2 linked regions of the Homo sapiens genome follow. The protein of the gene in region 1 interacts with the protein of each later gene in a biochemical or structural test. Each region holds a gene or a part of one and is shown on either strand. Other genes may lie near its edges.

The links. Proteins that work in one complex are often made in the same cells at the same time.
Region 2: the proteins of PIAS2 (region 1) and MAPK8 form a complex in vitro, tested with the Homo sapiens proteins (one study listed by BioGRID).

The regions. Positions count from the first base shown.
Region 1 is NC_000018.10:46,911,008-46,914,507, reverse strand, and holds part of PIAS2 (E3 SUMO-protein ligase PIAS2), read left to right. Parts: intron 1-3,500. UniProt on the Homo sapiens protein: Functions as an E3-type small ubiquitin-like modifier (SUMO) ligase, stabilizing the interaction between UBE2I and the substrate, and as a SUMO-tethering factor.
Region 2 is NC_000010.11:48,421,677-48,425,176, forward strand, and holds part of MAPK8 (mitogen-activated protein kinase 8), read left to right. Parts: intron 1-2,411; coding exon 2,412-2,483; intron 2,484-2,837; coding exon of another isoform or gene 2,838-2,909; intron 2,910-3,500. UniProt on the Homo sapiens protein: Serine/threonine-protein kinase involved in various processes such as cell proliferation, differentiation, migration, transformation and programmed cell death.

The sequences.
Region 1 (3,500 bases):
AGTTTTGGAGACTGCTGCGTGAGCCAGTACCAGAGATCTTGGCTGGTCATAGCAGAATATGGCAGCTCTATACCTTGTTGCCTTTCAGTCCGGGTGACCAGAATACCAGCCCACCTCTCTTCCAGTTCTTCTGGGAGAGAGAATCTGATTGGCTGAGTTTAGGTCTCTACTTCTGTTCTAATCATCCATAGCCGGGGGCTTAGAGTCAAAGCACACAAACCTGATCAGCAGATTATCCTGATGGATTGAAGGAAAGGAAGTGGGGAAGTTCTCTGAAAAGGGAAAATGTGGCCTGTGTGCTCAAAGATGGTTACAATAATGTGTTATATATTAGAAGCTTTCAAGGTGCCAGAGAAGAAATTACTCAATTTACCAGTTGCTTATTTATGGCATCTGTGTTGTTAGGAGCTGAAGGAGTGATTAGTTTGTGAATGAACAGATTTTGAATTAACTAGTTGTGAATTAATGTGGGACAAGATCATAAGATTTGATGGCCTGAACTTCTGTCACTGCTGCCTTGCTTCCTCCTCCAAAAATGGTCTGGAGGGCAGGGCTTGGTAGCTCACACCTGTAATTCCAGCGCTTTGAGAGGCAAGAGGATCGCTTGAAGCCAGGATTTCTGGGTTACAGCTAGCTCTGATCTTGACACTGCACTCCAGCCTGAGCGACAGAGGGAGACCCTGTCTCAAACTAGTCTGTAGAAGAGCTAAGCACAGGGATGGAGGAGAGCAGGAGTTGAGTTTCTGGAATCACTTACCTCTTCTTTAACCAGAGCAGCTTTTTCTTTACCCTTCCAGTTGCATATTTCCAATATTGTGGTCTGCTGGTGGCAGTCATTCACAAAAAGGTCCCTGCTACACTTTAACCTGGTTAATCTACTTTCCCTACTTCTCATCACTCAATGGGGAGGAGGGGGATCTATTGTAGTGACTTTTTTTTTTTTTTTAAGGATCTCCCTTCTGTATTCTTCATCCCCTTCTTTTCATGCATTGAGAATTTATTCTGTGTGTGTCTCAGAATGAGAGAGAATGTGCCTGTGAGAATCTGGTTGTGCATTTGGCCTGAGAGAGCCAGCGATGATAACTTTATCAATAGATACTGGGTAAACCAGAACATTTACCAAACTGGGTAAATTTGTTGTGTCATAATTCGAAGATCAGATTTGGGTCTTTCATGCTAAGAAGCCTAAGTAATTCTGTAACAGAAGGTCTTCTGTCTAGAAGGCTTAAGTGTTTGGTTTCCTTACACCTACCAGGAGTCACCATCCTGATAACTTCAAGTGCTGTTAGGATGCAGCAGGAGAATGGGAAGTTAATGGGGGATTTGAGGTTAGAGGTCCTCATCACGCTCCTCTCCCCATTTATTGGGCAGGGATACAGACTAATAGCTATGATAGATATAACAGAATCTTCCATATGATTCAAAGCTATTATGGGATGCAACTAAAATTTCCAAGGCTTCACCTGAGCTCATGTCTATGAAAGCACGTTCGAAACAAAATATATTTAACTTAAAGTGAAATAGGCTGGGCGCAGTGGCTCAAGGCTGTAATCTCAGCATTTTGGGAGCCTGGGGCGGGTGGATCACCTGATGTCACATTTTTTATTCTCTCATTTCCATTTCTCATATTTTTTAAATGAAAGCAATATTTGTGCAGACAGTACTGAAAAAATTCAAAATAGTGAAAGTCTTCCCTTTTCCATTAAATCCCACTCCCATTATGCTTTTAACCATTTTTGTTTGTTTGTTTTTAGGGTTTTATTGTTGTTCCAAAAGTCTAAAAATATACCATGCCTTTCTCTCTATATTTTTTCAACTCAAAAAAAATATTTCTTAACTTTTTGCTAGATAAGAAATTTAGGTCATTTTCCACCTGTCCTAGACTTTGATTTCTATCAGTTACATTTTGGTTCCTAATTTTGCTGTTATTTTTAACTTTTTATTATAAATTTCTGTTTATTGACCTATCACTTTTAGACAGTATATTTGGCCCTTCATGTCTGTGAATGACTTATCTTTGGTTTCAACCAACCTTGGATCAAAAATATTCAGGAAAAAAGGTTGGTTACATCTGTACTGAACATGTACAGACTTTTTTCCTTGTCAGTATTTCCTAAACAGTATAGTATAACAACCATTTCATAGCATTTGCCATATATTAGGTATTGTAAACTAGAAATGATGTAAAGTACGTAGGAGGATGTGTATAGCTTATATGCAAATACTATGCCATTTCATGTAAGAGACTTGAGCATTCTTGGATTTTGGTATCTGCAGGGGACCCTGGTACCAGCCCCCTACGGATACTGAGAGACAACTATATTTCCTCACTTCCTGGTCTTTCAGAAAAAGATATAACACCGATCCCTTTCCTTTTGGGATTTAAAAGCCAAACCTTGCCTTTGTTTTTCCCTCCTCCCTTCCTAGCCTTTGTTTTCTTTTTTCCTTTTTTTTTTGAGACAGGATTTTGCTCTTGTTGCCCAGGCTGGAGAGCAATGGCGCCATCTTGGCTCACTGCAACCTCCGCCTCCTGGGTTCAAGCGATTCTCCTGCCTCAGCCTCGCGATTAGCTGGGATTACAGGCACCTGCAACCATGCCTGGCTAATTTTTGTATTTGTAATAGAGACAGGGTTTCACCATGTTGGTCAGGCTGGTCTTGAACTCCTGACCTCCGGTGATCCACTCCCCCTCCCTTGGCCTCCCAAAGTGGTGGGATTACAGGCATGAGCCGCTGAGCCCGGCCCCAGCCTTTGTTTTTGGTTAGTACTGTTACATTGGCAAGATTTATTGCATTTATATAATGTTTTATAACTCTTCTAAAGTTTTCTGTGCTTCTGCAGGAAAATCTAGAAATTGAGTACTAATAGCCACTCTTTTAAATATGTATGTTGACATGAGTATTAGTTACTATAGAACCAAGTACTGTGGAGCCATAGAGAAACTTCACTTCTGTTAAACCTGTGATCCTTAAAAAGGAAATATAACAAAGTCAGCCGGGCACAGTGGCTCACGTCTGTAAGCCCAGCACTTTGAGAGGCCCAGGCAGGCGGATCGCCTCAGGTCAGGAGTTAGAGACCAGCCTGGCTAACATGGTGAAACCCCGTCTCTACTAAAAATGCAAAAATTAGCCCGACGTGGTGGTGGGCACCTGTAATCCCAGCTACTCGGGAGGCTGAGGCAGGAGAATTGCTTGAACCCGGGAGGTGGAGGTTGCAGTGAGCCAAGATCATGTCATTGCACTCCAGGCTGGGTGACAAAGCAAGGCTTCGTCTCAGGAAAAAAAAAAAAAAAAGAAATATAACAAAGTCCTGGTTGAATGAGGAAAGCTCATTGAAGTTATTTTTAAAATTTAATATTATAATGGGTTCTCATGTTGTAGCCATTCAGCTTGTCTTGGTAGACTTTCCGGAGTCTTGGCCTGCCTTTTCTAATTTGGGAAGCTTAGTAGACCTGTTACCCAGCTGTCATCCTGGGATTACTTCACATTGTTCTCCTGGGT
Region 2 (3,500 bases), on another chromosome or scaffold:
CACCTGTAATCCCAGCTATTCTGGAGGTGAGGCATGAGAATCGCTTGAACCCGGGAGGTGGAGGTTACAGTGAGCCGAGATTGCACCACTGCATTCCAGCCTGGGCGACAAAGCAAGACTCTGTCTCAAAAAATAAAATAGAATAAAAAATGAACTGACATATGGTTCCTCTTTAGTTAAGAATTATGTAGATCACCTTCTTGCCTTCCCACTCCCACCCTAGGAAACGGAGTCAAATGTAATGCTTAATGATTATAACTACATTAGCCAGCAAGGTTAAACATAAGTACTTCCTCCTTTTAATGACACCTCACACTCATTTTATTTATCTTATTTATTTATTTATTTATTTATTTATTTATTTATTTATTTTTGAGATGGAGTCTCACTCTGTTGCCCAGGCTGGAGTACAGTCATGCCATCTTGGCTCACTGCAGCCTCCACCTCCTGGCTTCAAGCCATTCTCCTGCTTCAGCCTACGAGTAGCTGGGACTATAGGCATGTGCCACCATGCCTGGCTAATTTTTGTATTTTTAGTAGAGACAGGGTCTCATTATGTTGGCCAGGCTGGTCTTGAACTCCTGACCTTAGGTGATCCACCTGCCTCAGCCTCCCAAAGTGCTGGGATTACAGGAGTTTGAGCCACAACGCCTGGCCTCCCACCCATTTTAACAACTTTGCTTTATGTACCTTTTATTGCAGGCTACTCAGAGCATTTTGGAAAGCAGTGTAATCAATATATTTTTAACTGCTTAATAGACTAAGCAGTTAGTTTACAGCTAGAGTTGTGCATGAATCAGACTTATGTTCCTAGTCTTCACTGGCCCAGATAATATCTTCTCTCATGCTTGCAGCTTTCAAAATACTTTTGTTTAAAAATGAGCTTTTCTGAAAGTTACCAAATAAGTTGTAAGCTGGATATTTAAAGTTTAACATTCTCTATAAAATCTGTAGAGAAGATTTATTCTAATAGATTTTTGTCAAAAACGGAAACCTTAGAAAAAATTTTTCTCTGAGGCACTAATTTATAAATATTAAATTTTTTTTCTAAAATCTTATCCTTGAAAGCTGAACCATGACATAAATATGAAAATATTCATTCATTTTAATATGACATTTTAGGGAAACTTTAGTTCCACAGTATTTCCAAAAGTAATTTCCAGTTTAGCTCTTAAGACTCTTCAGTGAACTGGCAGCCTTTTAATAAGAATGTACTGTATTAGAAAGTACAGGCTTTAATTTTCTAAGTCCTTTAACATGAGTAAAGGGCACGTGTCTTTCTGACATCTATTTGTGCCGTTTTCCACTTGTCATTTTAAAGAATTGGGACCTTCAGATGTCACAACTAAATGCAAGTTTCTAAGGCTTTTCCTTCTAAATTGCTCATTCTTCCCTCTTTTCCTGTTACACTGCAAGCACTTACTCTCTCCTTTTTGTGTGATGTTCAAACCCAAAGGCATAAAATGCCACGATGTGTTGTCAGTTTCCCTTAGTAAGTGGAGATTCCAAATTGTCTGTTTCTGTGTCTAGCAGATTCTTGTCAACATTGATTGGGATTCCCATTTACAGTTGGCAAGGGTCATCAGTAAGTCTTCCAGGAGACTCTTCATACTCAATTCGTGGGAACTGACTTACTGTATCTAGCCAAAACTAACTTCTTAAGCCAAAAGCAGTTTGGTTTTATGGGTTTAAAAAACTTTAGGTAGGAAACATGAAATACATTTCTCTTACTAAGTTTTCCTTGATTAGTTGTTCATTCTCTGTGCACTTGTTCCTTTTGGGATAGTAGGGTAAATGTAGCATGATGTTGCCAAGAAAACAAATGGACTTTTAATTCAGAACAAGCATAGCACTTCTCAGTTAAATGTATTTGGGAAATCCAGTTTAAAAATTCCAAAGAGCTTTAGATTAACTTTTTTATCATAATTATTCATAGAGATTATTTCTGTTAGATATTTTAATATGCTGAATTATTTTCTCATGCTTTTTTCTTAGAGAGTATAATGCACAGTTGAACTTCTAAATAGTATAGTATAACAATTTTATTTTTATAATTTTACTACCTCATGTACATTTTTATTTACAAAGTTTGTGTTTGGTTCTATTTCATATTTTATAAACAAGTTCTCAGGGACAAACATGCAGGGTTTTTCTATTTATGCAATTTCTGTGCATAGCTCTCACTTTGAAATTAGATATGTAGTTAAAATGCCACACTTTACATTTTCTTTTGTGAACCAGACTTTCAAAAAATAATTTGTGTTTTAAATTATTCCGTTAGCTAAAGTTACAATCACTTTTTTTCTTTTCGTGACGTTTTGCAGTTTTTATATAATGCAGTCATATTATGCTTCTTTGATTTTAATGACCTTTTGCTTTGCTTTTCCTTCTTTTGTGCTGCAAACATATAGTGGATTTATGGTCTGTGGGGTGCATTATGGGAGAAATGGTTTGCCACAAAATCCTCTTTCCAGGAAGGGACTGTATCCTTGTGCTGCTGCAGCAGTTAATTAGTTAGGCGATGAACTTCTTTATGTTCTCTAATGAAAATGAATATGCTACATTTACACAGATGGGTTTTTAAACAGGCATAAAGTTTGTGGCTATTATAGTTCAAAAATTGTTGAGATAAGAAGCTGAAATATTTGTAGGCTGCATCTGGCAGTAGGACATACAGTCTCTGCTGGTAGTCAGAGCACATTCACTGTCACTCATTTTTATTTTATACTGCTTTTTATAATTTTAAAGTATACATGGTGTGTGTGATTTTATTTCTTTCTTTTTTTTTTTATTTTAACCAAAATCTTTATGTTAATGTCATTGCATTTTGTTTTCAGTTGACATTTGGTCAGTTGGGTGCATCATGGGAGAAATGATCAAAGGTGGTGTTTTGTTCCCAGGTACAGATCGTATCCTTATCTTTGGCCTAAAATGTAGTTTCTAAAGGTCAAAATGTATGATAGCACTTCAGTTTGGTCAGGTATAATGTATTTTGTCTCTCCCTAATATATTGTTAAATTACTCTTAAAATACCACCTACTATTTGACATAGACTTTTCCTTCCGTTATTTATTGTTTCATATGTTAATTCTGAACCCTGCTCAATTGTAATTATGCACAATTACTTGCTGGCTTTGAGTTGATTTAACCTAAATCAAAAATCATGGCTTGCATTAAAAATTTATAATAATTATACACTTAAGTCTAGAAATACGTACAACTTAATATGAATTTTGGAGCTGTCTGTTGCTTCTGGCCATCCTTTTGTTTTGTCCCCTACCTCCTTTTTGTTAATGTTCTGTGTGGTTTGTGTCTTTTGATTGTTGTCTCATTACTCACATAACATACTGACCCTTTCATCTGAGAATTTCAGCAGTAGTAGTTTTGTATGGTAACGATAGCTTTGGATTCATACTTTTTGTTCATCCCACTACTTTTAATATTTATATTAACAGTGATTTGTTATGTGTTTACCAGCTAGTAACACTTAGAATTGTTTC